2 linked regions of the Homo sapiens genome follow. The protein of the gene in region 1 interacts with the protein of each later gene in a biochemical or structural test. Each region holds a gene or a part of one and is shown on either strand. Other genes may lie near its edges.

Region 1 (16,433 bases):
ACAGGTGGGGAGACTGAGGCCAAGTGGGCAGGCGCTGGCCCAGGGTCCCCATCATCAGTGGTCAGTGCTGAGGGTGTGGGCCCAGGCAGCTTCATCCCGAAATGGCCCAGCCTTCTAGGGCAGGCACCACCAAGCATGGGTGTCAGTGGATGCCCGCAGGCATAGAACTCCTAGGCCCCCAAGGGAGGTGTGGCCTGAGGATGCAGGTGCCCTTCTCCCGGGACCCCCATATCCCGCCCGCCTGCCGCCCACACCTCGTAATCAGGAGTCACGTTGAGAAACAGCTGGTTTCCCTGGATCCGAAATGCAAAGGGGGTGGACAAGGCTCCGAGGGTCACCTCCTGGCCCTCCGGGACGTGGATGTCCACCAGCGGCTCGGTGACATTTGTGTTCTCCTCTACTTCAAAGATGTCCTTGTTCACAGAGCAGTCTGTAAGGTTGCAGAGGAGGGATCAGTGCCTCCCAGCCCCTGGCTCCCCGCCGCCCGTGCCCCACCTACCCCTGCCCGCACATACACTGGGCCTGGGCCATGGTCCCCGGGGGTCGGACGAGCAGCCCGGTGAACAGCAGGGGAGGCCACAGCAGGGCCCAAGACCCCATCTTGGCGGCTGTCACCTGGCAGGAGGGTCTGAGCGGGTCTGGCGTCTAGGACTGGCGCAGTTCCTACCTCAGCGACCTTCGCCCCAGCCAGACGCCGCCCAGTTTATGATCCTTTACGACCGGCTTCTGCCAAGGGGGCTCCCGCTGGCCGGCTGGTCCAGCCCACTGCCAGAAGGAGGGGCAGTCGTTTGGCCCAAGTTGGACTGAGTGCAGGGGTCAACCAGGGGGCTCAGGTCACAGGCACCGAGGCACAGGGCAGAAGGGACTGGAGAGCGGCTCATGGGTGCCGTGGGGGTAGGGGCAGGGCAGGGGCAGGGCTAGGGTGTGGGAGAGAAGCTGGGGGCTGGGGGCGGGGGCTCGGCCCTTGGTGTCGGGGTGTCTGGAACCTGCCTCCCTAGCCCAGGCTGCCCTGGCTTGGCTCCTCCCCTAAGATCTCCCTCAGGCAAAGTTCCTAAGGCCACCCCTTGAGGCTCAGAACCCGGGTGTTCCCCAGGGAGCACCTCCCTCCCTGCCTGACAGCAGGTTCTGAAGGAAAAGGCTCTCCTCACTGTGTCCTGGGGACACCCCTGCCTGCCCCAGAGACAAGTCGGCTTCTCAGGGCGGGGCTGGACAGGGCCTTAGTGACTGAGGCTAAGGCGGGGCTGTGAGGGGCAGCTGGGAGTTCCTGGGGGGCCCTGGTGCCCGACAGAGGGGGTGAGGTGAGACTCGACACTTGCCCTGCTCTTTTCATTGGCCCCCCAGAAGCCCCCAGCTCTAGGGAGAGGCCACTGGGTAGGGTCGGGGCGAGGAAGTGGCTGTCGTGAGGGGTAGGTGGAGTTCTCCTCCTCCAGGCCTGTGCGCCGAAGCTTCTGGCCTCTCATGGCTGGGGCTGGGCTCAGTGTCCTAACCCTGCACGGTGCCCTCATGGTCGCCTTCAAGCCCTGCACGCTCCGTGCTCCACAGGCTCTGAGGGGTCAAGCCACTGGTCCGAGGCCACACGAGACAGAGGGTCCGGAGTCCTCACGCCAGAGTGGATTCCTGGCACCCCAGGTGACACCTCCACCCTCCCCTCTTCCTGCCCGCCTGAGCCCCCCTGGCCCCTTCACACCCTCCCCACTACCCCTTACAGAAACACTGACCACATGGGCCCCCGGGCAGGAGCTGAGAGGGTGTCCGGGATCCCCCGAGCCCCAGAATGTTTCCTAATGGATGACAAGGGGTGGGGCGGGGCCCTGCAGTACTTAGTCGAGGTACAGGAGGTGGCCCTGATGCCAGAGATAAGGATGAGGGGCCGCCGTGCCTGCAGGTGTAAAGGGCAGCTGGGTGTGGTCAGTCCCTCCTGGGTGGATGGGCCTCCATCCATCCCTCAGCCCCGCTACACAGGGGTTGCCTCGATTACACTGAGTGGACACAGACAACTCCCAGCGTCTGGGTCTGATTCCTCCTTTATTGGTGCCAAGTACCACCCCTCCCCCTCTCCCCCATCCTGCCCCCCACCCCAAATGCAGCTGCGCTCCTGGGCCGGGCAGGTGGTGAGGGGGTTCCTTCCTCATCTGGGCCGCAAGGTTCCTTCTGCAGCAGCGCCAGCTGGTTCTGAAACCATAGGCCCAGGGGGCAGCCAGGGAGACCAGGTCCCGTCCAGGGGCATCCTGCAGAGACAGCACGTGAGGGTCTGAGGGCTGGGGCTGGAGACCCCGGCCCCGCTGCTGGAATTGGGCCTCCAGTGGCCACCAGCGCTGACCCGGGGAGGCCAGGACAGAAGGAGGGGTCTGGGGTGGGGTCTGGAGTGGGGTCTGCGGTGGGGCGGGTGCTCACCAGGCCTGCAGGATGGGCATGTTGGACCCTGACGGGCAGAGCAGACCCGCGCTGAGCCTGGTCCAGGCCATGCTGTTCTCTGCGTCCTGCTCGCTGCCCCCCGCCCCAAAACAGAGTTAGTCCTGGAGCTGGGGGGTCGCGCGTTGCTGCTGGGGCACCACGCCAGGACCCCCCACCCCACCCGGCCTCACCTGCGCTTCCCCACCAGGCCCTGTAGCAGCCGCTGGAGCCGCGCGCCCTCCCGCAGGCGGCTGAGCTCGCTGGTGAACGTCCCGTCTGAGTGTCGCCGGGCCCTGCGGGCGGTCGGGGGTCGGGGTCAGGGCGCACTGGGGGCGGGTGGGGCCCGGGGGGCGGGCGGGCCTGGCGGGCGGCTCACCTGGGGGGCGCGGGGCGCGCGGCGGAGCCCCCGAGGAGCAGCAGCAGCAGCAGGAGGGGCCGGGGGGCCATGGCGGGGTCGGGGCGCAGGAGCTGAGCGCTGCGGCCACGGCCCCGGGCCCCCGCAAGGCCCCTTTATGGCGGCGCCCGGAAAGGGGACGGCCCGGCCGCGCCCAGCGATCCCGGGAAGGTCAGGGCCGCCCCCCCAGCTGTCGCCCCGGCCCGGCCTCCCGCCCCCTCCGCCGCGCTGGCGCCCCTCGGCCGGCTGGGGGAGGGGGACGTCCCGGCCTGGGGGGCGAACGGAGCGCGGGCCTGGGACCCGCAGAGGGAACCGCACCGCGAAGCCTCGGAGCCTGCGGGGGCGGAGGGGCCGGAGGGCTTGGGGGAGGGTTTGGGGGGGGACTGGGGGGCCCCGGGGAAGGGGCTGCGGCCGGAGTTCCGGAGGCCCCTGGAGCACCTTGCTGGGGCGAGTTCGTCTCCAGCTTCAGCGTGGCGTGACTGTTGGGGGGCCGGTGTTGCCATTTTATCTGCTTTGAAGTGCGCGATTCAGGATCATTCGGTGCATCCATCCCCACCATCCGTTCTCAGACTTTCCCGTCCTCCCAAAATCCGTTCACAGACGCTCCCGTCCTCCCAAAATCCGTTCACAGACGCTCCCGTCCTCCCAAAATCCGTTCACAGACGCTCCCGTCCTCCCAAAATCGTTCACAGACGCTCCCGTCCTCCCAAAATCGTTCACAGACGCTCCCGTCCTCCCAAAATCGTTCACAGACGCTCCCGTCCTCCCAAAATCCGTTCTCAGACTCTTCCGTCCTCCAAAAATCCATTCTCAGACTCTTCCGTCCTCCCAAAATCCGTTCTCAGACTCTCCCGTCCTCTCAAAATCTGTTCACAGACGCTCCCGTCCTCCCAAAATCCGTTCACAGACGCTCCCGTCCTCCCAAAATCCGTTCACAGACGCTCCCGTCCTCCCAAAATCCGTTCTCAGACTCTCCTGTCCTCCCAGAATGAAGCTCTGTCCCCATCAAACGCCCCCTCCCCTCCTCAGCCCCGGCGCCCCGTCCACTTTCTGTCTGTGGATTCAGCGCTTCCAGGGACTGCGCGCAGGGGGAGCCTCACGGGATTTGTCCTTTGGAGACCGGCTGGATTCTCAGCGCAGCATCCTCCGCCTTCGCCGCCGCGGCCTGGCCTGTGTGGGAATCTCCTTCCCTTTTGTGGGGAACTGTGTCCCGCTGTGTGCAGGGACCGCATCGACCGCGTCCGCTCATCTGTGGGCATCTTGATGGACACCTGGGCTGCCTCCCCTTTGGGGCGACGGCGAGTAACGCTGCTGTGAACGTGGGTGTGCAAACGGCGCTTCCCGATCCCGTTTTCAAGCGTTCTTGGTGTATAGTTATGAGGGAATTGCTGGGTGACAGAGTAATTATGTGTTAAATATTCTGAGGAAACGCCAAACTGTCTTCCCAGCAGCGCAGCAGGGACACGGTTCTTGTCCTCGCCAACACTTGCTACTTTGTGGCTTTTTGTTTGTCGCGTACTAACGATGCCGGTGGGTGCGACGTGGTGTCTCGCTGCGGTTTTGATTGGCATCTCCCTAATGGCCAGCGATGTGGAGCATGTTCTCAAGTGTCTGTGAGCCATTTATACATCATGGAGTGGACGGAGAAATGGCCGTCAAGCCCTTTGATGTTCTGCTGTGGTTGCGAGTCATGCACTGTATCCGTCTGTTAAATCAGCCACAATATTTTCCCCAGCGTTTGCATCATTTCACAGCCCCGCCAGCAATGTGGGGCTGGCTGGCTGGCTGGCTTGCTGGCTTGCTTGCTTTTCTTTCTTTCTTTCTTTCTTTCTTTCTTTCTTTCTTTCTTTCTTTCTTTCTTTCTTTTTCTTTCTTTCTTTCTTTCTTTCTTTTTTTCTTTTTCTTCCTTTCTTCCTTTCTTCTTCCTTTCTTCCTTTCTTTCCTTCCTTTCTTTCTTTTTCAGAGGGAGTCTCGTTCTGTCACCCAGGCTGGAGTGCCGTGGGGCCATCTCAGCTCACTGCAACCTCCGCCTCCCGGTTTCAAGCAGTTCTTGTGCCTCGGCCCTCCAAGTAGCTGGGATTACAGGTGCCTGCCACTATGACTGGCTAATTTTTATATTTTTAGTAGAGACAGGGTTTCACCATGTTGCCCAGGCTGGTCTGAAACTCCTGACCTCAAGTGATCCACCTGCCTCGGCCTTCCAAAGCACTGGGATTACAGGCGTGAGCCACAGCGCCCGGCCTCACTTTCTCTGCACACTGTCAACATCCCTGCAGTCGCTATTTTTAACCTTCAGCCATTCTCTCTGCGGCAACACCTCCTTGTGGTCTTAGTTGCATTTCCCCAGTGGCGGGTGATTCCGAACCTCTTTCCAGGTGCTTGTTTCCATTTGCATGTTGTCGTGGGTTAAATGTATCTTCACATCTCTTGCCCGTTTTTAAATTGTTCTCTACTGCTGAGTTTTGTTTTTTTTTTTATTGTGGGAAAACATGCATAACATGAAACTTACCATTTTAGCCATTTTAAAGTATGAAGTGATACTTAGTACGGTCACGGAATTATACAACCAGCACCGCTGTTTAGTTCCAGAACTTTTTACTCCCCAGATGGAAAATCTCAAATCCATAAAGCATTTACCTCCCCTTCCCCCATCCCTTCAGCTCCTGAGTAACAATGAATTTACTTTCTGTCTCTGTGGATCTGCCTGTTCTGGGTATTTCATACCAATAAAATCCTAAAAGCTGGGCATGGTGGTACATGCCTGTGGTCTCGGCTACTTGAGACGGTGAGGCAGGAGGATGGTTTGAGGCCAGGAGTTCGAGACCAGCCTGGGAAACATAGCAAGACCCTGGTCACTATTTTTATTTATTTATTTATTTTTATTTATTTGTTTTGAGATGGAGTTTCACTCTTGTTGCCCAGACTGGAGTGCAATGGCGCGATCTTGGCCCACTGCAACTTCCGCCTTCTGGGTTCAAGCAATTCTCCTGCCTCAGCCTCTGGAGTTGCTGGGATTACAGCACCACCATGCCCAGCTAATTGTGTACTTTTCATGGAGGCAGGGTTTTGCCATATTGGTCAGGCTGGTCTTGAACTCCTGACCTCAGGTGATCCGCCCGCCTCAGCCTCCCAAAGTGCTGGGATTACACGCAGGAGCCACCGCGCCTGGCCCCAGAATTTCATTCATTTTAATGGAAAAATCACACTGCATTTGGTTCATCCATTCACCTGCTGAGGACGTTTGGTTTATTTCTACCTTGTATATATTGTGTTTGTTTGTCTGCTTGAGACAGAATCTCGTTCTGTTGCCCAGGCTGGAGTGCAGTATATGATCTCCGCTCACTGCAACCTCCGCCTACCAGGTTTAAGTGATTCCCCTGCCTCAGCCTCCTAAGTAGTGGGACTACAGGCATGCACCACCACACCCCCTAATTTTTGTATTTTTAAAAAATATTTATTTATTTATTTACTTTAGAGACGGACTCTCACTCTGTCACCCAGGCTGGAGTGCACTGACCTGATCTCAGCTCACTGCAACCTCCGCCTCCCGGGTTCAAGCTATTCTCCTGCCTCAGCCTCCCAAGTAGCTGGGATTACAGGCACCTGCCACGCCCGGCTAATTTTTGTATTTTTAGTAGAGACGGGGTTTAACCCTGTTGGCCAGGCTGGTCTCCAACTCCAGGTCTCAGGTGATCCACCCGCCTCGGCCTCCCAAAGTGCTAGGGTTACAGGCATGAGCCACTGTGCCCGGCCAGTACTTTGTGTATTTTCAGTGGAGATGGGGTTTCACCATGTTGGCCAGGCTGGTCTTGAACTTCTGGCCTCAAGCAATCTGCCCACCTCGGTCTCCCAAAGTGCTGAGATTACAGGCGTGAGCCACCATGCCCGGCCCCTTTTGTATATTGTGAATAGTGCCGCTGTGAACATTTACATACAAGCTTTTATTTGAACACCTGTCTTCACTTCTTTTGGGTATGTAACATACCCACTGAGTCATATGGCAACTCTACGTGAAACTTGTTGAGGAACTGCTGGACTTCTTCTCACAGTGACCATTTTATATTCCCAAAAGCAGTGAATGTCTCCTCATCCTTAACACTTGGTATTTTTATTTATTTATTTATTTATTTATTTACTACCATGGCCATCCTAATGGATATGGAATGGTATCTTACTGTGGTTTTGATTTGCATTTCCCCAGTGACTAATGAGGTTGAGCATCTTTTCAAGTGCTTTGTGGCCATTTGTGTGTGACATATGTATATTTTTTGTTTGTTTGTTTGTTTTGGGGACGGAGTCTCGCTCTGTCACCCAGACTGGAGTGCAATGGTGCGATCTCGGCTCATTGCAACCTCCACCTCCCAGGTTCAGGCGATTCTCCTGCCTCAGCCTCCTGAGTAGCTGGGACTACAGGTGCCCGCCACCATGCCTGGCTAATTTTTTTGTATTTTTAGTAAAGACGGGGTTTCACCATGTTAGCCAGGATGGTCTCCATCTCCTGACCTCATGATCCGCCCACCTCGGCCTCCCAAAGTGCTGGGATTACAGATGTGAGGCACCGTGCCCAGCCATATTTTTTTTAAGACAGAGTCTCGCACTGTTGCCCAGGCTGGAGTGCAGTGGCGTGTTCTTGGCTCACTGTAACCTCTGCCTCCCGGGATCAAGCGATTGTCCCACCTCCGCCTCCCAAGTAGCTGGGATTATGGGCGCCCGCCAGCATACCCAGCTAATTTTTGTATTTGTAGTAGAGACGGGGTTTCACCATGTTGGCCAGACTGTTCTCGAACTCCTGACCTCAAGGGATCCGCCTGCCTCGGCCTCCCAAAGTGCTGGGATTACAGGCGTGAGCCACTGAACCCGGCCATTTGGGTATCTTCTTTGAAGAAATGTCTATTCAAGTCCTTTACTCATTTTCATTATTTATTTTATTTTGAGACAGGGTCTCACTTTGTTGCCCAGCTTGGAATATGTTGGCTCAATCACAGCTCACTGCGGCCTCAACCTCCTGGACTCAAAGGATCCTCCCACCTCAGATTCCCAAAAAGCTGTGACTATAGGCTCACGCCACCACACCCAGCTAATGTTTGTATTTTTAGTAGAGATGGGGTGTCTTTCTTTTTTTTTTTTTTTTGAGACAGAGTCTTGGTCTGTTGCCCAGGCTGGAGTGCAGTGGCACGATCTTGGCTCACTGCAAGCCCCGCCTCCCAGGGTCACGCCATTCTCCTGCCTCAGCCTCCTGAGTAGCTGGGACTACAGGTGCCCGCCACCACGCCCGGCTAATTTTTTGTAATTTTAGTAGAGACGGGGTTTCACCATGTTAGCCAGGATGGTCTCGATCTCCTGACCTTGAGATCCGCCCGCCTCAGCCTCCCAAAGTGCTGGGATTACAGGCTTGAGCCACCAAGCCTGGCCTGTTGTGGAGGATCTTCTATACATAAGACCATGTCATCTGCAAGTAGAAATAGTTTTCTTTTCCAATTTTGGATACCTTTAATTTCTTTTTCTTGAGTAATGCTCTTGCTAGAATGTCCAGAACAATGTTGAACAGAAGCAGCAGCAGTGGGCATCCTTGTCTCTTTCAAAGGCTTTTTGTTTCTCACCATTGAGTATGATGTTAGCTGTGTTTGTATTTTGTTTGTTTGTTTGAGACAGTCCCCCTCTGTCATTCAGGGTGGAGTGCAGTGGTGCGATCTCGTCTCACTGCAGCCTCCACCTCCTGGATTCACGTAATTCTCGTGTCTCAGCCTCCTGAGTAGCTGGGACTGTAGGCGTGCGCCACCATGCCCAGCTAATTTTAATTTTTGTATTTTTAGTGGAGATGGGATTTCAACATGTTGGGCATCTGGTCTTGAACTCCTGATCTCAAGTGATCCACCCGCCTCGGCCTTCCGAAGTGCTGGGATTACAGGCATGAGTCACGGCGCCCGGCCTGATGAAGTTTGTTTCTATTCCTAGTTTATTGAGTCTTATTATCATGAAAGGGTTTTGAATTTTATGAAATGGTTTTTTCTGCATCAGTTGGGATGATCGCGTGGGTTTTTCTTCATTCTGTTAATGTGGTGTATGACATTGAATTTCGTCTGTTCGTTCACCCTTGCATTCCTGGGATAAATCCCACTGGGTTATGGTACATAATCCTTTTAAAAATGCTGTTTTTCGGCCAGGCACTGGCTCACGCCTGTAACCCCAGCACTTTGGGAGGCCAAAGTGGGCGGATCATGAGGTCAGGAGTTTGAGACCAGTCTGGCCAACAGAGTGAAACCCTGTCTCTACTAAAAATACCAAAATTAGCTGGGCATGGTGGCACGTGCCTGTAGTCCCAGCTGTTCAGGAGGCTGAGGCAGGAGAATAGCGTGAACCCGGGAGGCAGAGGTTGTGGTGAGCCGAGATCACACCACTGCACTCCAGCCTGGGTGACAGAGTGAGACTCCATCTCAAAAAAAAAAAAAAAATGCTGCTTTTCTGGCAGGCAGCACTTTAAAAGGGACTGTGTTTGCTCATATTTTTTCGAGAACTTTTGCATCTATATTCATAAAGGATACTCATTTGGAATTTTCTTTTTGTGATATCATTACTGTTGAGTTTTGAGAATTATTAATCTTTTTTGTATACAAGCCATTTGCTGGATATATGATTGCTAATTTTTAAAAAAAATTTGTTTCTTTTTTAATTTTAATTTATTATTTATTTATTTATTTATTTATTTATTTATTTATTTTGAGACGGAGTCTCGCTCTGTCGCCCACGCTGGAGTGCAGTGGTGCGATCTTGGCTCACTGCAAGCTCTGCCTCCCGGGTTCACGCCATTCCCTTGCCTCAGCCTCCCGAGTAGCTGGGACTACAGGTGCCCGCCACCACGCCTGGCTAATTTTTTGTATTTTTAGTAGAGACAGGGTTTCACTGTGTTAGCCAGGATGGTCTCGATTTCCTGACTTCGTGATCTGCCTGCCTCGGCCTCCCAAAGTGCTGGGATTACAGGCATGAGCCACCTCGCCCAGCCTATTTATTTATTTTTTGACACAGAGTCTTGCTCTGTTTCCCAGGCCAGAGTGCAATGACGTGATCTCCGCTCACCGCAACCTCTGCCTCCTGGGTTCAAGTGATTCTCCTTCCTCAGCCTGCCAAGCAGCTGGGATTACAGGTGCACACCACCACGCCCGGCTTTTTTTTTTTGAGACGGAGTCTTGCTCTGTCACCCAGGCTGGAGCGCAGTGGCACAATCTTGGCTCACTGCAATCTCCGCCTCCCGGGTTCATGCCATTCTCCTGCCTCAGCCTCCTCAGTAGCTGGGATTACAGGTGCCCGCCACCACGCCCGGCTGATTTTTTTGTATTTTTTAGTAGAGACAGGGTTTCACCGTGTTAGCCAGGATGGTCTCGATCTCCTGACCCTGTGATCTGCCTGCCTCGGCCTCCCAAAGTGCTGGGATTACAGGCGTGAGTCACCACGCCTGGCCAATTATTTGTATTTTTAGTAGAGATGGGGTTTCACTATGTTGGCCAGGCTGGTCTTGAACTCCTGACCTGGTGATCCACCTGCCTCGGCCTCCCAACGTGCTGGGATTACAGGTGTGAGCCACTGCGCCTGGCGTAGACAACCCAATTTTTAACAAAAGCAAAGATTTTTAACAGGCACATTCCAGAAGAGGGCATGCTGACAGTTAACAGGCACATGGGAAAAGTGGTCAAACATGAGTAGCCATCAGGAAAATCAACGACGTCCTACTACACTAAAATGGAAGAAACATTGCCAGACGTGGCCATTTGCAAATGTCGTTTCCTGGTCTGTGTCTTTTGATTCTCCTGACAGCATATTTGAGTTAATTTTTTAATGTGTAAGGTATGAGTGGAGGTCCTCATTAAAAATTGTTTAGGCTGGCTGTATGGCTCATGCCTGTAATCACAGCACTTTGAGAGGCTGAAGTGGGAGGATCATTTGAGCCCAGGAGTTTGAGACCGGCTGGGCTAACATGGCGAGACCCCGTCTCTACAAAAAATAAGAAAATTAGCTGGGTGTGGCACCACGCATCTGTAGTCTCAGTTGTACAGGAGGCTGAGGCCAGAGGATCACTTGAGCCCAGGAGATTGAGGCTGCAGTGAGCCATGATTGCAGTAAGATGTGATCACATCCAGTTACATTTGATTTTCAGATAAACAACAGAAGTTTAGTGGAGGCTGGGGGCAGTGGCTCACAGCTGTAATCCCAGCACTTTAGGAAGCTGAGGCAGGTGGATCACCTGAGGTCAGGAGTTCGAGACCAGCCTGGCCAATATGATGAAACCGTGTCTCTACTAAAAATACAAAAAAATTAGCCGGGCGTGGTGGCGGGCGCCTATAATCCCAGCTACTCAGAAGGCTGAGGCAGGAGAATCGCTTGAACCCGGGAGACGGAGGTTGCAGTGAGCCAAGATTGTGCTGCTGCACTCCAGCCTGGGTGATAAGAGTGAAACTCCATCTCAAAAAAAAAAAAAAAAAAAAAACAAATTGGGGTTGTCTGTCTTTTCTCATTGTTTCCATTGTTTCTGGATCTGTGTGTCAGAGATGTGTGCTGCACACATCCTTTCTCCGCCTAGCTTGGTTTTCACTCTTGGTGGTCGCAGACATCTTGGGGGCTACTTGAAGGAACTCTAAGCCGACCAGAGGCTGGGCTGGACTCGCCGTTTGGCGCCCAGCCGGAGACCCCAGGGCCACCCTCCCCGGTTCCATCCTGGGAGAGAAGAAACTTCCACTGTCCCAGTCTCTCCTGTGGTGACTTCTTTTGCTCAAGGGTTCACAAGGGCAGCAGACTGATCTGCACAAGAGGGACTGAGCCTGGCTGCGGCCGCACCTGATGCCTGTGCACACCTGTCCCTGGTGGTCTCTCCTGTGGTGACTTCTTTTGCTCAAGGGTTCACAAGGGCAGCAGACTGATCTGCACAAGAGGGACTGAGCCTGGCTGCGGCCGCACCTGATGCCTGTGCACACCTGTCCCTGGTGCAGGCCCTTCCCCCGCAGCCCCGTGACCTTGTCCTGTGAGGCTCACGGTGCCTGCTCCTTCTCAGAGTCCTCATTTCTCCCTTTAACGCACGCCCTGTCAGCGCCTCCGTCTAGCCCGTGTCCTCCAGACCTTCGAGGTCAGGGGCCTCAATTCCTGGCACAGCCCCTCCACTCCAGGCCTCCCAGAAACAGACTAGAGCATCAGGATGTGCGCCGCCTGGGGTCCCACAGAGTGGTGCCCCCTTTTAGTGTCTTCTAGGCCCCTTAGTGACAGACTACAGAAAATACCTCTCAGGTCACAGGTCACCCCTCTTTGGTGAAGAGTCCATAGAATTCTCTGCTGCGCTTTGCAAGCACTTTCTCTTCTGCACGTTTGGAACCTACCCCGGCCTGTCGTGTCTTTCTCCTGGCCTCCTCGCGAGCCGAACCTACTGTCCGGTCCCGGGACCCCCTGCCCAGGGTCAGAGGGGCGCCTACCTAGCTCACGGTCTTGGGCCGGAGGGAATGGAGGAGGGAGCGGGGTCGACCGCTCAGCTGTCCGCCCAGTTTCGGAGGCGGCCACGCGAGGATCAACTGTGCAACGGGTGGGGCCGCGGCTGACCGTGGTGGTCGCGGGGGCTGAGGGCCAGAGGCTGCGGGGGGGGGGCGGCGGGATGAGCTAGGCGTCGGCGGTTGAGTCGGGCGCGGAGTCGGGGGCAGGGGGAGCGGGCGTGGAGGGTGCGCACGAGGTCGAGGCGAGTCCGCGGGGGAGGCGGGCAGAGCCTGAGCTCAGGTCTTTCTGCGTCTGGCGGAACGGGCCTGGGAGGGAGGTTTTGCCAGATACCAGGTGGACTAGGGTGAGCGCCCGAGGGCCGGGACGCACGCACGGGCCGGGTAGGATGGCGCTGGCGTCGATGCCCGCGCGCTTCAGGGCCTGGTCTGGCCGCCCCTCCATCCTTGTCGGTTTCTCGGGTCGCGGACCCCGCGCGGCGCCGGGCGATGCTGGCCTGCCCGTGGCCACCACCTCGCTTCATTCCCGTCTCTTTGGGCCGCCGCATTCGTCCACGTGCCCGTCTCTCCCTGCGCAAAATTCCAAGATGAGCAAATACTGGGCTCACGGTGGAGCGCCGCGGGGGCCCCCCTGAGCCGGGGCGGGTCGGGGGCGGGACCAGGGTCCGGCCGGGGCGTGCCCGAGGGGAGGGACTCCCCGGCTTGCGACCCGGCGTTGTCCGCGGTGCTCAGCGCCCGCCCGGGCGCGCCATGGGGAACCGCAGCACCGCGGACGCGGACGGGCTGCTGGCTGGGCGCGGGCCGGCCGCGGGGGCATCTGCGGGGGCATCTGCGGGGCTGGCTGGGCAGGGCGCGGCGGCGCTGGTGGGGGGCGTGCTGCTCATCGGCGCGGTGCTCGCGGGGAACTCGCTCGTGTGCGTGAGCGTGGCCACCGAGCGCGCCCTGCAGACGCCCACCAACTCCTTCATCGTGAGCCTGGCGGCCGCCGACCTCCTCCTCGCTCTCCTGGTGCTGCCGCTCTTCGTCTACTCCGAGGTGAGCCGCGTCCGGCCGCACGAGCATCCTCACCTGCTCCTCGGTTCCCCGTCCCTGTCCCTACGGAGGACCCGGCGCGACCCGGCCCCTTTCTGGTGCGGAGCTTCCAGCTGGGGCGGCGGCAGGGGCGCTGCGCCTTGTCCCTCGGCGATACACCCACCGCCGCCACCTCGCGACCTTCCACCCGCTGCGCTGTCTGTCCCCCGACCCTCGTTCCTCTTCTCCTTCCCCGTCTGTCTTGGCGTCTGTTATCCAGGAGATGCCCGTCCTTCTATCCAGGGACCCCGGAAACAGGCGACTTTGTCAAGCCCAGTCCCCTCCGTAGCTGGATTTCACCTCCAGGGCAGCCAGCTGGACAGACAGGCAGATGCAGGCTCAGCCCCCTGGCTGCCGTGGGACACACACACACACACACTGCCACAGCCACTGCCCACCACACACACCTAGTGCAGATGCTGGCACACCCCCAGAAGGAGGCTCACAGCTCGCAGGGGAGACCTGGGCTGGACAAAACCCAGGGGAGGGGAGGGTGTGTGGGGACCAGGCCCCTGCTGAGAACCCTGGGGGGAAGCCTGAGGGGGAATTGGGGGATGGAGCCCACACTCCACACCAGGTCTGGCCCTCGAGTGGGTCGGCCTTGGTGCCAGCCCCTCTGCGGCCAGAGAAAAGCAGCTTAGGGCTGAGCTGGAGACGCGGTGTCCCCGACTGTGGGGGAGGGGGACTCGAGGTTTCCCCTTGATGGACACAGTGAATCCAGGCGGCTGGGGCAGAGACCAGCAGCACGGGACACGCGTGACCTGTGCTCCTTTCGAGCCGCAGACGTCACAGTGACGACGTTTAAGCTCCTAATCTCCCCAAATCGGCGGGAAGGATTAGAGGGGCTGCCTGCTCCTTTGCCCTTGGAGAGAGTCACTCCACGTGGAGTCCTACGCTGGGCACTGGGCACGGTCTTCATATTTTTAATTATAATTTATCTTCAAGACAATTATGATGTGGATACTATCATCACCCTTGTCTTACAGATGAAGAAACAGAAATGAATTAACGTGCCCGAGTCTCCCACAGAGAACTTAGCCAACAGAGCAGCCAGCTTCGCTTCTAGGCCCAGCGGGGACCCTGCCTACCCCAGGCTGGGGAGGGGCTCCCTTTGAGCCCGATGATATCAGGCCCGCCCCCAGGGAATTCCCCAGGCCGTTCTCATGTTTGTAACAAAAGGGAGACCAAGGCCAGAAGCCGTGATTCACGCCTGTAATCCCAGGACTTTGGGAGGCAAAGGCAGGAGGATAGTTTGAGACCAGCCTGGGAAACATACCAGGCCTGGTCTCTACAAAAAATTTTAAAATATCAGCCGGGGGTGGTGGCTGCGGCTGTTGTCCCAGCTATTCGGGGGAGCTGAGGCGGCAGAATCGCTTAAACCTGGGAGGCGGAGGTTGCAGTGAGTTGAGATCTCACCACTGCACTCCAGCCTGGGCAACAAGAGCGAAACTCCGTCTCAAAAAACAAAAAGAAAAACAAATCAGCCGGGGGTGGTGGCGCGCGGCTGTAATCCCAGCTACTCTGGAGACTGAGGTGGGAGGATCGCTTGAGCTCAGGAATTCCAGGCTACAGTGAGCCATGATGGAGCCACAGCACTCCAGCCGCGGTGACACAGCGAGACCCTAACTCAAAACAAAGGGAGATCTGCGTGGGGAAGGGGTGTTTCCCTGCCCGGTCCTCTGGCCTCTGGCTCACAGCCGGGCCCCCTTCTCCGTATTCAGCCCTGGAACTACCCATAAGAGTGGGGGCGGGTCACAAGGGCCCGCGGTGGCTGGGAAACCTCAGGGCCTGTGGTGTCGCCGCGCAGGTCCAGGGTGGCGCGTGGCTGCTGAGCCCCCGCCTGTGCGACGCCCTCATGGCCATGGACGTCATGCTGTGCACCGCCTCCATCTTCAACCTGTGCGCCATCAGCGTGGACAGGTGCGCCGCCCTCCCCGCCCGCGCCCCGGCGCCCCCGCGCCCCGCCCGCCGCCCTCACCGCGGCCTGTGCGCTGTCCGGCGCCCCCTCGGCGCTCCCCGCAGGTTCGTGGCCGTGGCCGTGCCGCTGCGCTACAACCGGCAGGGTGGGAGCCGCCGGCAGCTGCTGCTCATCGGCGCCACGTGGCTGCTGTCCGCGGCGGTGGCGGCGCCCGTACTGTGCGGCCTCAACGACGTGCGCGGCCGCGACCCCGCCGTGTGCCGCCTGGAGGACCGCGACTACGTGGTCTACTCGTCCGTGTGCTCCTTCTTCCTACCCTGCCCGCTCATGCTGCTGCTCTACTGGGCCACGTTCCGCGGCCTGCAGCGCTGGGAGGTGGCACGTCGCGCCAAGCTGCACGGCCGCGCGCCCCGCCGACCCAGCGGCCCTGGCCCGCCTTCCCCCACGCCACCCGCGCCCCGCCTCCCCCAGGACCCCTGCGGCCCCGACTGTGCGCCCCCCGCGCCCGGCCTTCCCCGGGGTCCCTGCGGCCCCGACTGTGCGCCCGCCGCGCCCAGCCTCCCCCAGGACCCCTGCGGCCCCGACTGTGCGCCCCCCGCGCCCGGCCTCCCCCCGGACCCCTGCGGCTCCAACTGTGCTCCCCCCGACGCCGTCAGAGCCGCCGCGCTCCCACCCCAGACTCCACCGCAGACCCGCAGGAGGCGGCGTGCCAAGATCACCGGCCGGGAGCGCAAGGCCATGAGGGTCCTGCCGGTGGTGGTCGGTGGGTTCCTGTCCTGAGGGGCGGGGAGGAGAGGAGGGGGGGGGTACGAGGCCGGCTGGGCGGGGGGCGCTAACGCGGCTCTCGGCGCCCCCAGGGGCCTTCCTGCTGTGCTGGACGCCCTTCTTCGTGGTGCACATCACGCAGGCGCTGTGTCCTGCCTGCTCCGTGCCCCCGCGGCTGGTCAGCGCCGTCACCTGGCTGGGCTACGTCAACAGCGCCCTCAACCCCGTCATCTACACTGTCTTCAACGCCGAGTTCCGCAACGTCTTCCGCAAGGCCCTGCGTGCCTGCTGCTGAGCCGGGCACCCCCGGACGCCCCCCGGCCTGATGGCCAGGCCTCAGGGACCAAGGAGATGGGGAGGGCGCTTTTGTACGTTAATTAAACAAATTCCTTCCCAAACTCAGCTGTGAAGGCTCCTGGGGGCTGAT
Region 2 (14,446 bases), on another chromosome or scaffold:
TAGCAGGTAGATTGTTCTTACCATCATGTCCTCTACCCATCTCTATGCATATTGGCTGCTAAACCAGCTACCAGGATAATGACTCTTCTGCATACAGCAGAAGGAAATTAAATTGACAGCCAAGTTAAAATAGCCTGCCAAATAAGGGATTTTTAGTTATTAACCTTACCCATTACTGTCTCAAAGAAGATATAATGGAAATTACTTTTCTAATTTGTGGCTGTCTCCTTTTTTGAACTAAAGATCAGTGCAAATGGAAATGTGAGTCTCTGAACCCTGTTATTTTAGCAGTCCTGCATCTGCCTTATTTCTCTAACAACGTGTCACAGCACACACACACTCCCCTTCCCCTCTTTCTAAAAATAATGACCATGCCACTGCCAGGTTCTTCAGTTTTAGAAATGTGCTTTTTCACACTGTTCTTGTAAGATGTCCTAGACAAGCTTTTCTCATTAAAAAGATAAAAATCTCACTTAACAAGTACTCCATCATTGGCAGAGAACAAACAGGCTTCTTTCAGGTTGACTCTTTCACTAGCTTTTTTTTACACGAGTCAGATTGTTTGAGTATTGGTCTCCAACTTAGGGTTAAAACATTAAAACCTTAGGAGTTCTTCTGGGGAAGAAGGACTTTCTAGGCACAAAATAGTGGAAGAAATGACAAAGAATAAAAACATATTTGAATAAATAAAAAAATCATATACAAAATTATGATAAATTAGGAACATAGGTTTGGAACAACCCTTTAAAGGGTTAAAGGGTTGGCCTGGCAGGGTGCCTTACGCCTGTAATCCCAGCGCTTTGGGAGGCTGAGGCAGGTGGATCACCTGAGATCGGGAGTTTGAGACCAGCCTGACCAACATGGAGAAATCCTGTCTCTACTAAAAATACAAAATTAGCCGGGCTTGGTGGCACATGCCTGTAATCCCAGCTACTCGGGAAATTGCTTGAACCTGGGAGGTGGAGATTGTGGTGAACCAAGATCGTGCCATTGCACTCCAGCCTGGGCAACAAGAGCAAAACTCCATCTCATAGATAGATAGATAGATAAATAGATAGATAGATAGATAGATACATAGATAGATAGATAAAGGGTTAAAGGGTTAAAACCATTTGTGTGTAAAGAGCTCATAAGAATGCATGAGACAGGGCCAAGAGCAGTGGCTCACACCTGTAATCCCAGCACTTTGAGAGGCTGAGGCAGGCGATGGAGCCCAGGAATTCGAGACCAGCCTGGCCAACAGGATGAAACCCTGTCTCTACTAAAAGTATAAAAATTAGCCAGGCATGGTGACGCATGCCTGTAATCCCAGCTATTGGGGAGGTTGAGGCAGGAGAATCATTTTAGCCCAGGAGGCAGAGGTTGCAGTGAGCCAAGATCACACCACTGCACTCCAGCCTGGGCCACAGAGCAAGACGCCGTTTCAAAAAAAAAAAGAAAAGAAAAAAATTAGTGGTCCCAGCTACTAGGGAAGCTGAAGTGGGAGGCTAGGAGGATGCTTGAGCCCAGGAGGTCGAGGCTGAGGCTGCAGTGAACCATAATTGCACCAGTGCACTCTAGCCTGGGCAGCAGAGCAAGACCTTGTCTCAAAAAAGAAAAAAAAAACAAGAATGCATGAGAGAAACAATAAAGATTTGAGTGTACAGTTCGCAGAAGGGCAAGTAAAGCTGGCTACTAGATACAAGGGAGGGAGTTCAACCTAATTAATAATAGGGTCTTATTAGTTATAAAGAATTAAACATAATTTTTTGCCTACCAGAGTGTCAGAGATTTAAAAACTATCCAGTGCCTCAGAAAGTAGAATGAGTTGGCACCTTTATAGTGTTGGTGGGAGTGTAATTGGTAACAGCTTCAAAAAGTCACCTTATGTCTCAAAGTAATTTTTTTTTTTTTTTTTTTTTTTTTTGAGACAAGGTCTCACTCTGGCTCCTAGGCTAGAGTGCAGTGGCATGATCTTGGTTCACTGAAACTTCACTTTCTGGGCTCAAGCAATCCTCCCACCTCAGCCTCCTCAGTAGCTGGGACTACAGGCGTATGCCACCATGGTGATCTATTTCATTTGTTTGTTTGTTTTGATACAAGGTCTCACTGTGTCACTATAGTGCAATGGCATGATTTTGGCTCACTGCAGCGTCCACTTCCTGGACTCAAGTGATCCTCCCACCTCAGCCTCCCAGGTAGCTGGGACTTGGGACTACAGGTGTGCACCACCAGACCTGGCTAATTTTTTGTATTTTTAGTAGAGACAGGGTTTTGCCATGCTGCTCAGGCTGGTCTTGATCTCCTGGGTTCATGTGATCTGCCTGCTTTGGCCTCCCAAAGTGCTAGGGTTACAGGTGTGAGCCACCATGCCTGGCTCAAAAAATTTTTTTCTAATTCAGGTTCATTACTCAGCATTCTTCCCATTTCTTTAAGAAAACAACCAGGAAAAGTTTCATATTCAGGATATTTATCACAGGGTTATTTATGTGATTGTTTATAACCCAAAATTATAAACCCTGAAATGCCTAAGAATATTATAACCATGTACTAAAAGAGTTATTCATATATTTGGAAAATGAAAAACATCAGGATACAATATAATATGGTCACATTTGTAGGTTTTTTTGTTTGTTTGTTTTTGGTGTTTTTTTTTTTGGACGGAGTCTCGCTCTGTTACCCAGGCTGGAGGGCAATGGTGTGATCTCGGCTCACTGCAGTCTCCACTTCCCAAGTTCAAGCGATTCTCCTGCCTCAGCCTCCCGAGTAGCTGAGATTACAGGCATGTGCTACCATGTCTGGCTGATTTTTGTATTTTCACTAGAGATGGGGTTTCACCATGTTGGCCAGGCTGGTCTCGAACTCCTGACCTCGTGATCCACTCATCTCAGCCTCCCAAAGTGCTGGGATTACAGGCGCTAGCCACTGTGCCCGGCCCCCATTTGTGTTTTATAAATGTGCAGAAACAAGGCTGGAAGGAAATTATGTTACATTTTGGTGTGTCTTTGTATTGTGGAACTATGGGTAATTTTTTTTTCATAATACCTGTCTGTATTTTCCAAGTTTTTTAGCAGTAAAAATGTATATTATATGTTTTATAATCACAAGGAAAATACTTTTCAATTCTTTTCAACAGGGAGGGGTAATACGTGAGTGGGGATGGTGATTATACTAGTCCTTGAGTTATTTTTAAATTTTCTAAAAGAAAATCATTTTTGTGCTAGAAAAAGCTGAACAGGCTAAATAAAGACTTCAGATTTAACTAAAATTATATCCATTCAGTGTGAAACACTGTTGCTCTCATAGTTATCAAAAGCTCTGTTGGCAGTTGCGGGGAAGTTAATTACTTAAACTCACTTTGGTAGACAGTCTGTCAAAACACAGGATCTGTCGGGAAAAATAATGAAGAGAGTCCTTCACAGCAAAGAAGTTTGGGAATCAGTGATCGAAGGATCCCAGCCATTTAGAGCCATAAAACCCCTGAGTGGCTGGTACAGTGGCTCATGTCTGTAATCCCAGCACTTTGGGAGGCCGAAGCAGAAGCATCGCTTGAGTTCAGGAGTTAGAGACCAGCCTGAGCAACATAGTGAGACCTCCTCTCTTTAAAAAATTAAAAAAAAAAAAAAAAGGTAGCTGGGTTTGGTGGCACACACTGTGCTCCCAGCTGCTCAGGAGGCTGAGGTAGGAGGATTGCTTGAGCCTGGGAGGTAGGAGGATTGCTTGAGCCTGGGAGGTCGATGCTGTGGTGAGCTGAGATTGTGCCACTGCACTCCAGCCTAGGTGACAGAGGAAGGCCTTGTCTTTTAAACAGAACAAAACAAACTCCTTTATACATCACACCAACACCTCTTACGAAGTTCCACTGTAGACATATAGTTACCAGAGTGTTTATTGGGAAAATTTCAGCCAACAGGAAGTACTGTCAGTTATCTGTGTTTTTAATATAATCTATTTCCTTTCTACTTCTTTTCTCCCACCCTTCAAAAGGTGCCTGAATGAAATCATATCAAGAAAGAGAGGGGTTTTTTCTTTATTTTATTTTTGAGACAGTCTTGCTTTGTCACCCAGGCTGGAGTGTAGCGGCATGATCTCGGCTCACTGCAACCTCCGCCTCCCAGGTTCAAGTGATTCTCCTGCCTCAGCCTCCGGAGTAGCTGGGACTACAAAATGCACACCACCACACCTGGCTAATTTTTGTGTTTGTATTTGTGTTTAATTTTTTTGAGACAGAGTCTTGCTCTGTCACCTAGGCTGGAGTGCAGTGGTGCGATCTCTGCTCACTGCAACCTGCATCTCCCAGGTTCAAGCGATTCTCGTGCCTCACCCTCCCAAGTAGCTGGGACTACAGGTGTGTACCACCACACCTGGCTAATTTTTGTATTATTAGTAGAGATGGGGTTTCACCATGTTGGCCAGGCTGGCCTTGAACTCCTGACCTCAAGTGATCCACCCGCCTCGGCCTCCCAAAGTGCTGTGATTACAGGCGTGAGCCACCACGCCCAGCCTTCTTTATTTTATGTTACTTTATTTTATTTTTTGAGACAAGTTCTCACTCTGTTCCCCAGGCTGGAGTGCAGGAACACGACCTTGTTCACTGCAGCCTTAACCTCCTGGACTTAAGTGATCCTCCCATGTCAGCCTCAGGAGTAGCTGGGACTACAGGCATTTGCCATCACACCTGGCTATTTTTTTTTATTATTTTTTTCTAGATATGGGAGTCTCACCATGTTACCCAAAGTGGCCTCGAACCCCTGGGCGCAAGGAATCTGCCCACTTTGGCCTCCCAAAGTGCTAGGATTATAGTCATGAGCCACTGTGCCTGACTTCTTTAGATATATATATTTATTTTTGGGGGGTTGGGGGGTGGGGCAGGGAGTTATATAAAGCAACAGAAATAAGAGCTGAAAAATCAATAGAAAACTTTAAAATTTGCATAGCACAGGAAGTACCTCTTGGTTGGTGTGGGAATTTTTATTCATACATACATCATCTGCTGGCATATTCATCTACATGGGAAATGTGTTTGGATAGAAGGATCACACTTACCTTGTCTATTCAAGTCAGGAAGAAAAGAGGTGGAGTAAGAAAAAGGAATAGGTAGGGAAATAGTGTTCCCAAAGAAGAAACAAATAACTTGTGGTCCTAGCTTCTCCCAACTTGAAGTAATTTTAGGCAGACATAAAATTACTTCAATCACTAAAGAACCCTTCATTCTTATGCTTTGATTTTTTTATTTATTATTATTATTTTTTTTTTTTTTTTTTGAGATGGAGTCTTACTCTGTTGCCTAGTCTGGAGTGCAGTGGTGCAATCTCGGCTCACTGCAACCTCTTCCTCAGTTCAAGTGATTCTCCCGCCTCAGCCTCCCAAGTAGCTGAGACTACAGGTGCGCATCACTGCACCCGGCTAATTTTTGTATTTTTAGTAGAGACGGGGTTTTGCCATGTTAGACAGGCTGGTCTTGAATTCCTGACCTCAGACAATTTACCTGCTTTGGCCTCCCAAAGTGCTAGGATTACAGGCATGAGCCACACCTGGCCATGCTTTGATTTTCGAAGGAGCTGACTCCTGAGACCTACTTGCTGGCTCACTTTGGAGAGGGTCCACTTTATTTGGCAAGTACATAAGACAAGTGCCCTCTTAGAAAAACTCCGTGGTTTATGTGTGAGTGTATATGTTTTATTAAGAAAAATCTCAAACATAAAAATAGTAATATAATGATCCCCCATACCCATCACTCAATTTTAACAATTATCAACACATAGCTTTTTCTTTGAGATGGAGTTTTGCCTTATTGCCCAGGCTGGAGTGTAGTGGCGCTATCTCAGCTCACTACAACCTCCACTTCCTGGGTTTAAGCATTCTCATGCCTGAGCCACCCGAGTAGTTGGGATTTCAGGTGTGCGCCACCACACTCAGCTAATTTTTGTATTTTTAGTAGAGACGGGGTTTTGCCTTGTTGGCTAGGCTGGTCTCAAACTCCTTACCTCAAGTGATCTGCCAGCCTTGGCCTCCCAAAGTGTTGGGATTACAGGCATGAGCCACTGCACCCAGGCTATTTTGAAGCAAATTCCAGACTGGATATTATTCCATGCCTATGTGTCATACTTCCACGTGTGTCTCTAAAAGATAAGGAAAAAAAATTCTGCCACATCTAGAATGCCATTATCACTGTTTAAAATCACACAATTCCTTATTCTCACGTGTTTGTGTAATTTTTTTTCCATAATTTTTTGTTGTTTGTTTTTGAGTACTTATGTTGTTCAAATCAGAATCCAGACAAAGTCCACACGTTGCTCGTGATTTCATGTCTCTTTTCAGTCTCGTTTTAATCCAAAAGTTTCCATCCTGTTTTGGTTTTTCCCAGCCAGTTTATTTCTTGAAGAAGCCAAGCTGTTCGACCTGTAGAATTTCCCACATTCTAGACTCTGCTGTTGCATCTTTGTAGTGTCATTTAACATGTTCTTCTCCCATGTATTGCCTGTAAACTAGTGGTTGGATTAGAGGCTTGTTAAGAGTCAGGCTCAGTTTTTTGGAAAAAAGACGAGGTGGTAGTGTGGTCCTTCCTATTCATCACCATTAGGAAGCACTCAATGTCTCATAGTAATATATTGGCTTTTGAAATAATGATTCTAGCCCAGCAATTGATGATAATTGTCAAATCCATTACTTCATTAGGGGTTTATCTGTGTTTCCTGTCAGCTTCAAGGTACTACATTTGCTCTTTCAAGTCCAGGTTACTCATAAGATCACTTTGGTCTCCTAGATGCTTCCTAGTGATTGAATTTTCCAAAGCTCCAGCTAACTATTCTCTCCATGAGTTCTAATGGAGCACATGCACAGGGGATTTTCTCAAAGAGACTTTGCTCTTTGAAAAAAGCCAAGGCAGGTGCTGTGGCTCATTCCTGTAATCCCAGCTACTTGGGAGGCTAAGGCAGGAGTATCGCTTGAGGCCGGGAGTTTGAGACCAGCCTGGGCAATATAGCAAGACCCTGTCTCCAAAAGCCAAGGTAGGAAATATTTTATCAGAGTAAGGCGTTAGGGGAAGGGGAAGATATAAAGGCTGTCAGAATAGCTTCTTTGGGAAAATAGAGAAAAAGACTTTTCCTTTAAAACTCTAGTCTTTTGTTGCCTGGTGGTTTTGATGAATTGGCAGGGAATGTGATCATATAGTTGACTAAATTGGAGAAGGAAGTGTTCATGGAAAAGAGATTTTAGGCCAGGCACAGTGACTCATTCCTGTAATCCCAGCACTTTGGGAGGCTGAGGCAGGAGAATCACTTTAGGCTAGGAGTTTGAGATCAGCCTGGGCAATATAGCGAGACCCTTTCTCAATTCAGAAAAAGAAAAAGAGATTTTAAATCCATCACTTGGATCCTAAGTTTCAACATGTAGCTTTTTTTGTGACAAGGTTAGGAGAGTTCTTTCCCCATTACAACAAAAAACCTCCCAATTTGAGTTTTTCAGGCTAAGTGCAGAGAGTGCCTTTAGGCTCTCACCTGCACTTAAGACCTCAAGGATTATGTCAGCCAGTCATCTCAATAGGTTGAAATGGTGCAGTGTTGCCGGGCACAGTGACTCACACCTGTAATCCCAGCACTTTGGGAGGTCGAGGCTGGCGGATCACTTGAGGTTGGGAGTTCGGGACCAGCCTGACCAACCCCATCTCTACTAAAAATACAAAATTAGCTGGGCGTGGTGGCACAGCCTGTAATCCCAGCTACTCGGGAGGCTGAGGCAGGAGAATCACTTGAGCCCAGGAGGCAGAGGTTGTGGTGAGCCGAGATCATGGAATTGCATTCTAGCCTGGTCAACAAGAGCGAAACTCTGTCTCCAAAAAAAAAAAAAAAAAAAAAAAGAAAAAGAAATGGTGCAGTGTCATGTTGAAGTTTGCTTTCTAGAGTTTTAATGTCCAGAAATTTAAGTTTCAGAGACTCGAGAGCTACAGCCTCAAGGAAAAATAACTCCCCATTCGACAGCCTTATGATTATCTCCCATTTCGGATTGCATCCCTCAGCCACATAAAACAAGACATCCTAGAACTGTTTCTGTTGACACTTCCCTGTGACTAGTTACCCATCCAGGGATGCTGAACTAACCCATCTTTTTTCTGCCTTTGTCTTCAGGAGCCAATGAAGTGCTTTTGGTGGTTGGGGGCTTTGGAAGCCAGCAGTCTCCCATTGATGTGGTAGAGAAATATGACCCCAAGACTCAGGAGTGGAGCTTTTTGCCAGTAAATAATGGTGAAACCATTCGTTGGGAGGGATGTTAAATGTCCTCAGTCTCTGCCTCCAGATCATAGCTAATCCAGCCTTAAGAGTAGAAAAGCCTAATAACAGGATGTTTCTTACAACAGTCTTGTGCATATAGTAGGTACTTACTTAACAGTTTTTGACTGTTTAGATTAGAAGATTATGCCTTAGAAATGTCAGTGGCCCTGTGTCAAGGTAAACTCAGATGGCCACCACTAGTTAGGTGCCTTTCTAAGCTGTCTGTATAATTCCTAGCACATTTCATTGGTCGTGCTGTGTTAAACTGAACTGAATGTTAAATTGTGTTGAATTGAACCCAGTGTTCAGTTGAGCTCAGAAGTTTGGGCTGGGCGTGGTAGCTCACACCTATAATCCCAGCCCTTTGGGAGGCTGAGATGGGAGGATCTCTTGAGGCCAGGAGTTCAAGACCAGCCTGGGCAATATGGTGAGACTCTGTCTCTACAAAAAAGTAAACAAAAAAATTAGCCAGGCATGGTGGTGCATGCCTGTAGTCCTAGCTACTTGGGAGGCTGTGGCAGAAGATTGCTTGAGCCCAGGAGTTCGAGGTTGCAGTGAACTGTGATTGTGCCACTGCACTCCAGCCTGGGTGATAGTGAGATCCCAACTCAGAAAAAAAAAGTTTGTATCTGTCTCCCTCAGCATGTCTCTCAGTGCTGAATGAACAATAGTAATTTCTGAGAAAACATGGAAATCCAACCCTCCTACCTTTTAAGGTTCTTATAATAAATCCTCATCCTTTGATTAGCAATGTGGGAATACTTTTCTACTTTATGGAAGGATATCAGTCTCTTAGCCCAGTGCCTTATGGAAGAGAAAGGAGTCAGATATTGGATAACAGAAAGCTGTTAAATCTTTTGGAAGCCTTGGAAAGAGGCAGAGATGCAGAAAGCTTGTATCTTTAAGAGCACCACAACAGGCATTTCGTTCAGTAGGTAGCTATTTGGGAGCCACTTGAGGATGAACCACTTAAGGAGGGTTCATGATGACAGGTGAAGAAGCAGAGAGGTGTGCAGATACAACAGGGAAGATAGCAAAAGGTAAGGCCCAAAACTTGCCTAACTGAAATGCTCTGTACCTCTTCTCTCCAAATCCATAGAGCATCACTCGTAAGAGACGTTATGTGGCCTCAGTGTCCCTTCATGACCGGATCTACGTCATTGGTGGCTATGATGGCCGTTCCCGCCTTAGTTCAGTGGAATGTCTAGACTACACAGCAGATGAGGATGGGGTCTGGTATTCTGTGGCCCCTATGAATGTCCGACGAGGTCTTGCTGGAGCCACCACCCTGGGAGGTAGGCTGGATGTGCAGGGCAATTATTTCCATCTTACTGTGGCTGGACCAGGGTTTTTAACCTCTCCTGTTGTCTGGCAGGAGCATGAAATACGGAGAAAAAATTAAGGTCAAATGTTATTATTATTTGAGACAGGGTCTCTCTCTGTTGCCCAGGCTGGAGTGCAGTGGTGTGATCACGGCTCACTGCAGCCTCAACCTCCCCAAGCTCAAGCGATCCTCCCACCTCAGCTTCCTGAGTAGCTGGGACTACAGGCATGCACCACCATGCCCAGCTATATTTTTGTATTTTTAGTAGAGATGGGGTTTCGCCATGTTGCCCAGGCTGATCTCTAACTCCTGAGCTCAAGTGATTGACCCACCTCGGCCTCCCAAGGTGCTGGGATTACAGGTGTGAGCCACTGTGCCCAGCCGACAAATACTCCTTTTTGCTTTCAGAAATATCAGTGTAATAGAAGCTGTTCAATATTCATGGATGTTTCATTATTGACTACAAAGTTGGCAAATCAAGTTCCAATGTGCTGGGTGGGGAACTGGCACTAGTTGTGTTTTTGCAAACTCCTAGGTGGTCTTTGAATGCTTTTAAGGATTTTGTTTTACCCCATTCTTTTTAGATGTCTTCCTTGTCTATAAAACTTAATTGACTTATCTCATTTAAAAATACTTTGTTTTTGCTCTCAGACTTTTAAAGGACCCTTGGAAAATTTGTAGAGGAAAGAGTTCTTAGAAATCTCTCATTCTCTAATAGTCTGTAATTTGTTTATTCTGAGCAGATATGATCTATGTCTCTGGAGGCTTTGATGGAAGCAGGCGTCACACCAGTATGGAGCGCTATGATCCAAACATTGACCAGTGGAGCATGCTGGGAGATATGCAGACAGCCCGGGAAGGTGCCGGACTCGTAGTGGCCAGTGGAGTGATCTACTGTCTAGGTATTGAGTCTGGGATGCAGGAATGGGAGGGAACTCAATGGGTAATGGGCTGTGGGTAAGGATTCCTTTTTACCAAAATGACGTTCATAGACTTCCCTTCAACTAAAACCCTGGTGTGTCTTAATATATTTTCCATTAATTGGGATTATCTTTTTCTTATAAGCATAATGTCAGATTTCTCTTAGAGTTATTGGAACTCTTGTGGGAAAATTGAAACTAAAATAATTAGTTGAAGCACTCAGAAAAAAACCGACCAGGAATGGGCATGAGGATTTACCACTCTTTCTGGAATGGTCTCTGTCTTCCAGGAGGATATGACGGCTTGAATATCTTAAATTCAGTTGAGAAATACGACCCTCATACAGGACATTGGACTAATGTTACACCAATGGCCACCAAGCGTTCTGGTAAGACCAGATCTGAGGGAGGGGACAATAGGCGATGCTGTCAGACCTTTACATATATAATGGTGGTGCATGGGACAAACCGTAGATTAATGTAAAAATGAGATTCTGCTCTCCTCCTTGTCTCTGTTTTCTCTAAATACTAGGATAAAGACAGTTGATACTTACAACTAGATTATAAATTTGAAAGCAAAAGCCTTCATGTCTTTGTTCTCTCCCTACGTTTTAGAATATCTAGTACAATTTTGCCTGTGTAGTACATGCTTAATAAATATCTGTTAAATAAAGTCTCTAATGCATAAGGACAAAAGAGTAGCTACTTACCTTCACCAAGAGCTTTTTGAAGTGGAGCAGGCTGGGATATAGAAAAGGAGAGAGCACTGTGCTGTTCTAGTTTACTTACTCTGGGTAAAAATTGCTTCAGAACCATAATCACAACTCCTTTCCCTCCATCTACCTTTATTGCCACCTTTTTTTCACTTCCTCCCTTTCTCCTAATTAGAAGGGTTGGGCTCTGAGTTAATGAAAGTAAAGAAGAGAACCATTTTTATTATTTATCTTTTATCATTTCAAGTCCAAGCCAAAGGGTTTATAGATGGAATAACTTGTGCTGGACTAGATTATTCTAGGCCCGTGTGGGCCCATTCCATATCCCTCATCTACTGTAGAACTCAGCTAGTCATTAGTGACCGTAGTTTATTTCTATAATTCAGATTCTAGGCTTAGTACCATACATTTGCTAATGCATTCATTTTCCCCAGGTGCAGGAGTAGCCCTGCTGAATGACCATATTTATGTGGTGGGGGGATTTGATGGTACAGCCCACCTTTCTTCCGTTGAAGCATACAACATTCGCACTGATTCCTGGACAACTGTCACCAGTATGACCACTCCACGATGCTATGTAGGGGCCACAGTGCTTCGGGGGAGACTCTATGCAATTGCAGGGTGAGGATTTAGAAACGAATCCAGACTCAATATGTAGCCAGAGCAAGAGTCTATGTGATCTGATCCTCATTTTTGGACAGAGACAAGACTTGGGTAGGGGTAGACATCTCCAGTGGCAACTTGATTTTTTTTATTAGATTTTTTTTATTTTTTAGAGACAGAGTATTGCTCTGTCACCCAGGCTGGAGTCTGAGTAGAGTAGCTGGGACCACAGGTGCACGCCACTGTGCCAGACTAGTTTTTTATGTTGCCTAGGCTGGTCTCCAACTCCTGGGCTCAAGCAATCCTTCCACCTCAGTCTCCCAAAGTGCTAGGATTACAGGTGAGAGTCACCATGCCTGGCCTCCAGTGGCAGCCTTAATGAAGGACTTGTGTGGAAAGGAATAGAAGGCTAATTTCTTTCTTTCTTTCTTTAAATTTTATTGAGACAGGGTCTCACCATGTTGCCCAGGCTGGTCTCAAATTCCCTCCTGGGCTTAAGCAATCCTCTTACCTCAGCCTCCTGCATAGTTGGGATTACAGGCACGTGCCACTGCACGCAGCTGACTCATTTCTTTCTTTTGCTTCTTTCCCACTCAGATATGATGGTAATTCCCTGCTAAGTAGCATTGAATGTTATGACCCTATCATCGACAGCTGGGAAGTCGTGACATCCATGGGAACCCAGCGCTGTGATGCTGGTGTTTGTGTTCTCCGCGAGAAGTGACCATTGTTGGAGCACCATCCAGAGCTAGTGACCAGTCCAGTGGACAGTTAGTGGGAGAATCAAAAATCCTTTCCAGAATGTCTGTTTCTCACTATGTGCACCGGGTGATTACAGGCACCAGTGCAGTGATGATTGTACTTATTTGACACATACTCCCCGTCGTCCTGGTTCTTGTTCCTGAGAAGGGTGGGTAACAGATATTCCAGGAAAAAGAATGCACATTGAATGGATGTGAGAGACCACATTGCCTCTCCCACTGCTTTGGGGAGCACTTTCCTGTCATTTCTAACTTACCACATGCTTGGTGTACTATATGTATGTTGTGCCTCATATGTTGCAAAGAACTAAGGTGAGTATAGCCTACTAGATATGGGCAATATCCAGCCTAGATGATTGGAAAGATACCAGTTTAAGTAAACTTGGTAAAATCCAAGTCTTTTTTTTTTTTTCCAGGAACAACTACATTTTCTCATATACAGGTAGCTAGGGGCAACACAGTTCCATTCTAGAGGGAAACAAAAGGGAGAGCCCCACAAAACTTTGGGGACAAGGGAGAGAGAGACTCATCTGACACTTCTTTTGGAGGTCAGGATTTGTATATCAGAATTGAAGTTAGAATTAAGTGAATTAAACTGAATTTGATTGTGAGTGAACCTAGAACAGCACTGAAGTATTACATAACCTGGAAGACTGAGAAGGGTATATTATTTGAAGGATCTTTTTATTTCCCCGAGGTCTTTCGCACTGGAGACAGCATAAAAGAGTGAACAAATGTTGGGATGAGAGAAGATGACATCAATGTGGGAGTTCAGTATAACTGGGGATAAACTAGAAGAACCTGTGATTTTACAGTCATCTTATTACCTGCCAGGGCTCATCTAGCCATGGCAATGTTTGCCTTGAATGGGGGTGAAAGCCTTTCTTTGTTGGATCAAATACTACTACACTATTACACTTCCACACTATTTATTTGGGGATGGGCTGGGAGTGACAGTAGCCTAGTAGTTCAGCTACCTGATTACTGCCCCATTCTTTTAGAAGCACATGTCTGCCAAGGAGTGGTTTGTACTGCTGTGTTTGGTACATCTAGTCTTTTTTCTGCTATAAGTTTTCCTTACCTGTCCTTTAGTGTAGATTTTATTCATCACAGGACAGAATAATCAAGGACAACCAAAATCCTTTTGTTAGTTTCAGTACCTCAGCTATCAACATTTCTGAGCTACCATTCAATGTTCCTCTGTGTCATGGAGTGAAATTCTTGTTTTGTGGGTATTAGGAGTGTGGGAATGTGATAACCTAAACAACCTTTGCTCTGAAATTCCATTTTTCCCTCTTTCCCTGAGTTGTATTGACCTACAGAGTTAATTTCCTTTGTATTTTTTTAAGAAAATATTAAAAATCAACGGTCTCAAATGCCGAGAGTTTGTGGCTAACCAACATTGCCTTTAGTAGATATTTGGGAGGGAAAGATGTAGGGATCAGCCGTAGCTCCTGTCTCTTCAAGCTGTTCATCTTGTGTGTTTGCCAACTAGTTCCGCTATTTCTATGTTAGACACAGGTAAGAGGTAGCCACTTTACACTTTGGAGATTCTCATCAGTAAAATATTTACCTGATTTGCCATATTCATTAGCCCCTCTGACGCTTGGAGTTACTTGAAAAAGGAATACAGAAAAGATCTTGAATTCACTTAGCACGCGCTTGAATTTCAGGGTTTCAGTCACACCAGTCCTTTTTTCCATTTGCTTTGAATTGTGGCATGTGATATAAACAGCTATGCGGAAGGCCTGCAAAACTGAAACAGTCCTGATGCTTCCAGAGCAAAAGGAAGGAGGAGCCACATGAGGAAGTTATTTTCCTTAAAAGATGCCTACCAACTTTGGCAGATGGATTGTGCATGCTAATTAAACCAAAG

The links.
Region 2: of the proteins of DRD4 (region 1) and KLHL12, one has a biochemical effect on the other in vitro, tested with the Homo sapiens proteins (2 studies listed by BioGRID, with this or other methods).

What each region holds. Positions count from the first base shown.
Region 1 is NC_000011.10:624,303-640,735, forward strand, and holds DRD4 (D(4) dopamine receptor), read left to right. Parts: upstream 1-12,966; 5' UTR 12,967-13,002; coding exon 13,003-13,287; intron 13,288-15,130; coding exon 15,131-15,243; intron 15,244-15,345; coding exon 15,346-16,004; intron 16,005-16,098; coding exon 16,099-16,301; 3' UTR 16,302-16,404; downstream 16,405-16,433. Other genes in the region: CDHR5 (cadherin-related family member 5 isoform 1 precursor), read right to left, coding at 255-430, 516-600; SCT (secretin preproprotein), read right to left, coding at 2,129-2,228, 2,395-2,487, 2,586-2,687, 2,771-2,841. UniProt on the Homo sapiens protein: Dopamine receptor responsible for neuronal signaling in the mesolimbic system of the brain, an area of the brain that regulates emotion and complex behavior.
Region 2 is NC_000001.11:202,890,620-202,905,065, reverse strand, and holds the end of KLHL12 (kelch-like protein 12), read left to right. Parts: intron 1-8,105; coding exon 8,106-8,212; intron 8,213-9,348; coding exon 9,349-9,544; intron 9,545-10,316; coding exon 10,317-10,475; intron 10,476-10,783; coding exon 10,784-10,882; intron 10,883-11,640; coding exon 11,641-11,827; intron 11,828-12,406; coding exon 12,407-12,533; 3' UTR 12,534-13,946; downstream 13,947-14,446. UniProt on the Homo sapiens protein: Substrate-specific adapter of a BCR (BTB-CUL3-RBX1) E3 ubiquitin ligase complex that acts as a negative regulator of Wnt signaling pathway and ER-Golgi transport.